Homo sapiens: one gene and its partner. The protein of the gene in region 1 interacts with the protein of each later gene in a pairwise test. Each region holds a gene or a part of one and is shown on either strand. Other genes may lie near its edges.

Region 1 (4,494 bases):
GGTTTAGATCTACGCTGTCCAATACTGTAAGCATTAGTCACGTGGCTAAACATTTTAAATGGTTTAAAAGTAAAAATTCAGTTACTCAATTGCACTTGCCACATTTCAGGTGCCCAGCCGCTACATAGGCTAGTGGCTAACATATTGACTGTGCAGATAGAAAATATTTCCATCATCACAGAACGCTCTGTTGGAGAATGCTGATTTAGTTGCTGTCACAAAATAAAATGGTTTAGAGAACTAGGATGAGAAATGTTAGGAGAACAGAAGAAAGCACATCAAAAATTTAAATGATCTTAGGAAATGAACCAACTAGGATATTTCACTGAGGGTCAGAGAGATTAGTTAATTTTGTGATTCTAAATATGCCACAATAAATGGAAGCTTGAAAGACTACCTAAACTAAAAATACAGCTTTCTAAATAAGGTGACTCGAAGTAGGTAGGTCTATATCATAATAGCTGAAGCTGAGCCTGAATGACTCAAGAAGATGATTGATTTGAGGAAGGTTGTTAAATCAGTTCTAAGAATCTATGGATTAATAATTTGAATTGAGAAAGTGAATTGTGAGTAACATTTGGTATAGTATATTGATAGATATTTTTTCATTTTTTATTCCTGTTTGTCATTATGAAGTCTTCAGTGTAAAATACTATATAGTTACTTTTTCCTCTTGTGTTACAGACCAAACTCAACGCCTAAGGTAGAACAAGCAAGGTAGAAGAGACAATACTGGGCAAACTCGTGAAGTTAAACTTGTTTAAGTGGGTAGCTTTTACTTAGATTCAGCCTTTTGTTGCCCTGTGTAGCCTTTTGTTGTAGGTCCCAGAATTATACCTCGTGATAAATTACAAGTCTATGTTTATGCATAACATTAGACATAACATTAGACATAAACTGTTTTTACCATTTTATTTTTGTTTACATATTTGTTTAAAATCAGTGAATTTCTTTGCCAGGTTCAGATAACTGAAGGGCCTTTATAAGTAGTTTATATTGTTCAGACCCAAGGTATGCTGAAAACATAGTCTGGAGCAAAATAGGAAATAACATCTTTCTAAAGACAGGCTTAGAAGTTCTAATCCAGTAACTTAAGATGTTCCCTTTGTGTGGTAACAGAGCTGATTGATACCTGTAAGAAAACATTGAGATAGTTCAATAGAAAAGATTGTTGCATCAAATGGCAAACCCATCTGTGATACATATTAGTCCTAGAAGTCTTAAGATAAAACTGAATATTAAAGTAAAGGTCTTCAGTGTCTATTAATCCTAAAAACTTTTGTTTCTTTATCCAGTTTGCTTCAAGGCTATAGCATAGATTGCTGATGCAAGAGTTCAACAGAGAATAGCCAGAATTATTTTAGAATAGAAGGCTAATATAACAGCTAGACATTTTCTGATGGAATTTTCCTTTAGTGCAAGTGTTCAAACTCATCCAAGATAATTGTTTATATGATAGAAGTTTCATGCATAATACTGTTTGCAGCTTTGTAGTTAGTTTAGTATTCAGTACACAAATTAAGGTTAATAGCCTAACTACACACCAAGTATAACTGTTTGAAATTCTTGATAAGTAGAATTTCATTATAAGAAAAAACAGGTCTTGCTAACTTCTAATCAAGAGGGTAACATTGCCTTTGGTCTAAATGCCTTAAAAACAAAATATATTTGCTGCTTTAAGTTGTGAGTTTTATAGGTAATCACATATTATAAAAAGTTTTTTATTTCCTACCTGGCTGCTAGACCACCATTTACAGGTATAGCCAAGAAAACAGGGTATAGACCACCAATAACAAGACCAGTCAGTCCACTCCGTGTTATGGTACAGGTTTCACAATCCAAATCACCTAGGAAATAAATTAGTCATAGAAATGAAGGTCATGATAGTCAAGCAAACATGATTTAAAGAATGTAAGATCCTCTTTTGTGTATCACAGGTATTTTTCAGGTAATATATCAAATGTAATTGTACAAAGCCTGTTAAAAGGTATAATTACATCTATGAGTAACTTAAAATAGCTAGGAATAATTGGTAAAACTATTTTAGGAAAAAAAGTTCTCTAATTTGTTCTCAACTTAGATATAATAATCTCATGGTTTGGGCTACTGCTAGCTTTCTGCCTTGTTTTTTATCAACAGACCTAGGCTAATATTTTCACTCAGTCTGTTCAATTAAATGGGCGATAGGTCTTCCTTGATCATAGAAATTGTTTCCACTGGTCATGGGAATTAAAACAAAATACTCGTCAAATTTAAACAAATTTGGAGCAGCACTTAACAAAATTTAGATGGACTGCCTTCCCTAGCACCCATGGTAATATTTTTATTTGAAATAATTAATCAAAAGTTTTTTTTATGATTAACTGTACTCAAAGTATTCAGCACACATGGTAGATTTTCAAAAGGAAATCAAATCTCCATGTATTTGATAAATGTATATGCATTTAGTGCTTTAAGAGATTTACTGTATAAAGAGTTATTCCCATAAAAATATTTTCCCCCTTTAAGGAACTTCTCTATAAAATATAAATAAAAAATCTAAGGTAGCCAACATATTATTTATATACATTTGTATATATATAATATTTCCATATATATAATTTTCATATATATGTATATATGGATTTCCAAATATTTCTTACTCTAAATGAGCACTGTGAGAAAGATATGTTAGAAAAAGGGAAGTATTGCCGGGTGCAGTGGCTCACGCCTGTAATCCCAGCACTTTGAGAAGACAAGGCGGGTGGATCACCTGAGGTCAGGAGTTTGAGACCAGCCTGGCCAACATGGTGAAACCCTGTCTCTACTAAAAATACAAAAAATTAGCCGGGCATGGTGGTGGGCACCTGTAATCCCAGCTACTCAGGAGGCTGAGGCAGGAGAATTGCTTGAACCCAGAAGGTGGAGGTTGCAGTGAGCCAAGATTGCGCCAGGGCACTCCAACCTGGGCAACAAGAGCAAAACTCCATCTCAATTAAAGAAAAAGTATTTAGAACTGCTGTGTATGTGCATCTTGGTTGGTAGACCATACTAATATGAATTATTTGCCACATTATATAGGCTAGCAAGATTTAATCTTAACTGCATTACAGCATACAGCTACTTGATATTAATAAGTATGGACTAAAGCTGCAAATAACATATACTAAGGCAAACTCTTTGGTGATAGTGAAGTAGAATTTACCTGTATTCAAAGGAAAACTTACAAAACATCTGTAAGTTAAGTCTGTTGTAAGAAAAGGTATCCCTGCCATTGGTAAGCCAGCAGCTATGCGAGCCTTTGTCACATTCAAGATGCGTCGAAAAAGACTGTTTGCTATGAGGCCACAAAGAGCAGCATTTAATCCAACATAAACCGATCCATTTTCAAGTAGATTCCTGAAAGGGTGAGAAGAAAGAACTTTTCTTTGGCATTATTGTGTGTGTGAGCTTTCCCGATCTTGACATGTGTTATAGGACTTTGGGAATACACTAACTGGATACGACATCTATCCCTTATAGAACCAAAATCTTAAAAATTGCTTTATATATAGGTTTTTGCTCTTCTCCCAGCAGCCAGTGGGTGCCTCTCCTGAGCTCCCATAATAATTAATACTTAACCTCTCTAGCACAACACATTACAAGACAGTACTATCTTATATAATCACCGATTTACATGTCAGGCTTCTACACTAGTCTTTAAACAACCAGAAGACAATGGATACAAAGATGTATTCAGCCTGACACAGAAGATGTTCAATAATGTGGAGTTAATGTGATTTCTTTCACTCTTCCCTGAAACATTAGTGTCAGGATTGGGAGTATTAACATTTAAGCAATACCCTATGCTAGGTACTTTATAACAACCCATTGATGAGAAATAAACTGATGTTTTCAGGTAGTGGTAGAACTGGATTTGAAGCCAGGTTATGTATGAACTTTTAACTTATGTCCTATGCATTCTTTAGTTTTGGGAAAAAGTAATACCTAACATGATTGCTGAATATTGAAAATACTGACTCCAAACTTTTCAGACTACGACTTAGCTTTTTTACCACTTACATTGCCATCTACAATACAGTCTTAAGATTTTCATTACTCTTAACTAGCCAAAGTAGCCACAGAGTACCTCCTCTAACTTCTATGGCTTACACTCATCTTAAAATAGCTTTTCTAGGAACTCAGCTTCCTACGTTGTATAAGGTATTGCTTTTCTTATCTGACACTTTGCAATCATGATGCCTGTCACTCATTGAGAACCCCACTGTATGCAGCAGACTTAGTGCTAAAGGCACAAAAAATTACCTTCTATCTTCAAGGTTAACATAGTTAAATATTACTGGAGAAGAAAGAGATGTAAACGAGATATAACAGAAGTCTATGAAAATGGTAATGGTGGTACAAGACAGTGGCAGTTCAGGAACTTGGAGTACATAGATTATAATTAGTGATGACAGTCTGGAGAACCTACCAACCACAAAAACCATGTAAATGTGAAAAGCCTATTTTTTTTTT
Region 2 (4,956 bases), on another chromosome or scaffold:
ACTATTCACTGAACTCTGGAAAATACTTACTATATTTATGGGTTTATTATAAAAGATATAGCTCAGGGCCAGCCCACTGGAAGAGATGCAGAAGGCAAGGTATGGGATATACCACCTTCTCAGCACTTTGATGTTGTTTACCATCTGAATCTCTGTCATTTGAGTTTTTATAACCCAATCTCCAGCTTCCTTCCTCTCCTGTAAGTAGTGTTGAAAGTTATCACCCTCTAATCAAGGGTTTAGTTTTTCTGGTAACCAGCCCCCATTCTGAAGCCATCTAGGCGCCCCACTCTAAGTCACTTCATTAGTATGAACTCAGATATGGTCTAAAGGGCTTGTTATGAATAACTAAAGAAATTCTATTGCTTAGGAAATTCCAAGAGTTTTGGGAAATATGTGGCAAGAATTCAGGACAAAGACCAATTACAATATTATTATTATACCAAATTCTTGTTATGCTTCAATGTTAAGACGGTTTCTCTTTTGATTATATCGTTCATGCTATAATCTAATTAGTATATTGTTTATTGTGGAACATTTAATTAAAAAATGGAAAATACGTTTTTATTTTTAGCAAAAGTTTAAATTTATTGCTTTTTCTCTTACAGGTCACTGATGAATTGTTGGAAAAAATTGCATCAAGAAGTCAGAATATAATTGAAATCAACATTTCTGATTGTCGCAGTATGTCTGATAATGGCGTATGTGTTTTAGCATTTAAATGTCCTGGACTTCTTAGGTATACAGCCTACAGGTGTAAACAGCTTTCTGACACCTCTATTATTGCGGTTGCCTCTCACTGTCCTTTACTTCAGAAAGTGCATGTAGGCAACCAGGACAAACTCACTGATGAAGGACTCAAGCAGGTAAATTTTAGCATTTATAAAGTGATTTTACTTGAATTAATTAAAAATGTTTTCTAGCAACAACATTTTAAATGGTTACGTTAAAAATAGTTCCCAGAGACTCAAGTGAATCATCTTTTTTACCTATTAATGAATATTTGTTTAGATTAGTTAACTAGAGTGCCATGGTTATAATCAGTAAATTAACTGCTTTGTTTTATAGTGAGAGCCTGAACTTCTGTGACCAGCCATTTTATAAATTTATGCTTTTGTTACTTAAATTTTTTACCACATTTTGCTTTGGGCAACTGCGTAGTTTTGGTCAGCATGAGGTTTTAAAAATTAACATTTTAATTCCCCTTTTATTATACTAGATGACATACATGCTTAAATATCTGAATGTTTAAGGGATAAATGGACGTCCAAATTGAAGATTATAAAAGTTAGAACAAAGGCCTAATTACCTCTATTTGGTACAATAACTGGGTTAAAAATAGTATTATGCATACCTTCTGTTTATTATACTTCCTTTGGAAATGGCATTTAAGGTTTCTTGGCTCGGAGTGGATTATTTATTCAACAGATGAATATCCTTAAATTTAAACCTTATGTATGAATTAACTGAAAGCTTGGTATGAAAAGAAATTTGGGAAGACTCTATCCTAAATAGTGAGTACTGGGTGTGTCAGTACAACTTATATATTAAGAATGTTACCAACTTATAAGGGAGCCTATTTTGTTTGCAAAGGCATATTGTGCAAAAAGTCTTATTTGTTTTAATATTTTTCTTGATTCATTTCTGCTATGTACAGGATTATTTACTAGCAAAGCATTTCATGAAGTTCTTAAACATATTAAATTAATCTTTTATGAAGAAATATATATTTTGTGTATATAGCATGATTTTATTTACTTTGATGGAAATTTCTCAGCAATTTATTTTTCACAATGAAACATTTTAAAAAGGTGTATGTATTAAGAACTGGATTAAATCTATTTCATATTTAATTCTGATATAACACAAATAGGTAGTAGTTTAGCAGACTTCTTAGGGTATACCTAGTAATTTTTGTGAAAAAGAATAAGATCGTAGTCATGGTTGAAGTAGAGAAGGAGCAACATTTAATATGCTAATCAAGTATTATGAATTTATCTTATATTTACAACTTTGAGAGTAATTATGTAAATCTTCTCTAGAATGTGAGGTATTTTGGAGCCTGTTACTTAGATGTTTCCTTCGGATATTTATGGTTTCTGAATTATGAATTAGTTACACGTGAGGTAATATTCTGATAAAAGTAGCAAAACAAATTTTTTTCCCCTTAGGTAGTTTTCTTCTTAAGTAATTACATAGGATCTCATTGCAGTGTAGAGAATATTTTTCTGTACTTAAGACCGCTATAGCTGGGTATGTCTGATTTCATAATAGACTCTTTCCTCTGATGGAATAGTGTTATGGGTATAGTAGAAAGAGAATGGCTTTCATATATACATAAAATAGAAATTAAGTTTTATGAAACAATACACATCCTTATGTGCAATGCACATGGATATTATCTATTCTGTTCTATACTATTATGTTAAATGTTGGCCTTGACCCACTCACTAAATTAATTTTATGACCTAGTGATATTTCATAAATCCGAATATGGATTTATATTATGGTTTTAGTAAACTGACAGTGCTATGTTAAAATGTATAATAGAGTTACGAAAGCCTAAGAGGGAACTAGCCATAATTGATGATTTGCCTGGGACTGTTATTTTTTCTTGAACTCATTAATTTAGCAATTGACTGAATTGTTGATTCTACAGATTAAGTTGTTGCAGGGTTCTGTTTTTTCCCTCTTCTGTCAGTAAAAATTGAGAAATGTTTTAGAATGATATATGTAAATTTTATTGATAATTTCTTTAGAATATATTTTCTTTATAACTGCTATAATTTTGATTGACTTTAGCGGATACCAAATATGTGTGCCTTTTGAATTCTGTCAGTTTGTTTACAAAAACAGTTGCTTATAGCATTTCAATTTGGAGCTCTAATAGATGTAGACTCTAATGTTTTAACTATTGGATTCTGCTTAACAATATTTCTTAAGCATGGTGAAGCACCTAAAAAAATCAGGCTGGTTTTGGTTGAATACTATCCTCTTTGTGAAATACCACCCTGAAATATTTATATTTTTATTTTCATAATAGTCACTCAAAATAATTTTACCAGTGGAATGTGTTCCTATTGTATATATCTTTTAAAACTACAATCATGTATCTAGAGGAAAAATCTATTTAAGAATAAAGGGCTGTTTCAATTTTCCTAATATTTTGTTATCATCTAGCACTTGCCAGTAAACAAACGATAATAGTAGTCAAAGTATTAAAATATATCTAAGAAATTGTATGCATTGTTACTATATTATGTGACTCAATTATATGCAGTTTTAGCAGTTTAACACTCCAGCTCATGGAGCTCAGTAGAAATTTCTGTAAATAAGTCACTGTAGGCTTTTTTCAGATAAAATGGTACAAAAATAATAAATGTTACATTAGTAAATTTTGATCTGGCTATGCTATCAATTTTTAGGTCTTTAAAAATAACTACTTAGAGTACTATCAGCAAAATGTTGGAGCAGGCAGCTCCAAAAGCCTGCCTCTCCAAAAAAACATTGAAAAACAAGCCTAAACTATCAGATCCAACTTTGTCAGAACTCTGGAAACGTCAAAGGTTTATAGCAACCAAAGGAATGCTAGACAAGAAAAATGCAACTGAAAGGTGGAAAGAATGCTTTGTGGGTTTTTTACTTGCCTGTGCCTCACCCATTCCCCAGCTTGGCAACAGTCTTGAAGATAGCAGTCCGAGTTCCCAGTGTGGGACCCAGATCCCTGGTTCCAGAGGGAACAGAGCAGACCTTATTTGCAAATTATTCATTTGTCTGATCAACCTACCTGAGAGCTATTTGAAGGGCTGATGCAGGTGCTTATATATCTGTTTTACCTAATTTAGAACCCAGTCAGGGAGGAAAATTAGTGGGCATTGATTGAACACAGTATAAGGCAAATGAAAGAAACTTGCTTTTGAGCAAGCTTCTTTGGGCAATAGATTATGGTGAGACATACAATTGACCTAGGAGAAAGAGCCTGGGAGAGAGTTTGTTTTTATTTTTGTTTTTGTTTTGAAATTAGGACAATCAGCCTCAGTGTATAGAAGGGAATTTTGAAAGCCGCATGCATGCCCAGGGCAGGACACTTGTTCAGGAACGACCTAAGAAGACTGTAAACTTTATCACTGTGTGCTTGCTAGGTCCAGTACAAGCAGGAAGTAAAGGCCAAGGCAGAGTTGTGAATGGTATGGCTAAGTCTTAAAGAAATATCCCAGCACAGAGCCAGTCTGCAAAGACTTGAATAAGTGCTTTTGTTTTTTGTTTTAGTTTTGTTTTTAAGCTTTGGCATCCAAGGAAATCTCTTTCAAAACACTGGCTGAACACAAGCTAAGCCTTGATTAATCAAAAATAGTGAAGCGTAGGGAAGTGGGGAGAATCTAATTTCCCAAGTTACCACATTATAATCTAATATTTTAATATTTAGTTTTCAACAATAAATTACAAGGCATGCAAAGAAAAAAGTATTACCCATTAAAACAAAAAAGAATAAATAGAACCCATTCTTGAGGAAGCCTGGACATTGGATTTACTAAAGATTTTACTAAAGATTTTAAATCCATTATCTGAAATATGCTCAAAGACATAAAGGAAACCATGGCCAAAGAAATGAAGGAAATTAGGAAAATAATGTATGAACAAATTGAGAATGTCAATGAAGAGCTAGAAATTATGGAAAGAACCAAATAGAAATTCTGGAGCTAAGAAGTACAATAACTGAAATAAAACATTTACCAGAGGGATTCAAGAGCCGAAGTGAGCAGGTGGAAGAAAGAAGATAGGACAATTGAATTTATTGAGTCTAAGAAAGAGAAAGAAAAAAGAGTGAAGAAAAGTAAGTAGAGCCTAAGAGATGGGTGGGACATCCATCAAGCAGAAAAACATTCACATTTTGCTAATTCCAGAAGGAAAGGAGAAATAAAAGGGGCAGGAAGAATATTTGCAGAAATAATGGCC

What was found. Proteins that work in one complex are often made in the same cells at the same time.
Region 2: the proteins of TMEM126A (region 1) and FBXL17 interact in a two-hybrid assay, tested with the Homo sapiens proteins (one large-scale study listed by BioGRID).

The regions. Positions count from the first base shown.
Region 1 is NC_000011.10:85,652,947-85,657,440, reverse strand, and holds the end of TMEM126A (transmembrane protein 126A), read right to left. Parts: intron 3,379-4,494; coding exon 3,185-3,378; intron 1,848-3,184; coding exon 1,733-1,847; intron 1,133-1,732; coding exon 940-1,132; 3' UTR 899-939; downstream 1-898. UniProt on the Homo sapiens protein: Protein required for the cotranslational protein quality control in the inner membrane of the mitochondria.
Region 2 is NC_000005.10:108,360,648-108,365,603, reverse strand, and holds part of FBXL17 (F-box/LRR-repeat protein 17), read left to right. Parts: intron 1-608; coding exon 609-866; intron 867-4,956. UniProt on the Homo sapiens protein: Substrate-recognition component of the SCF(FBXL17) E3 ubiquitin ligase complex, a key component of a quality control pathway required to ensure functional dimerization of BTB domain-containing proteins (dimerization quality control, DQC).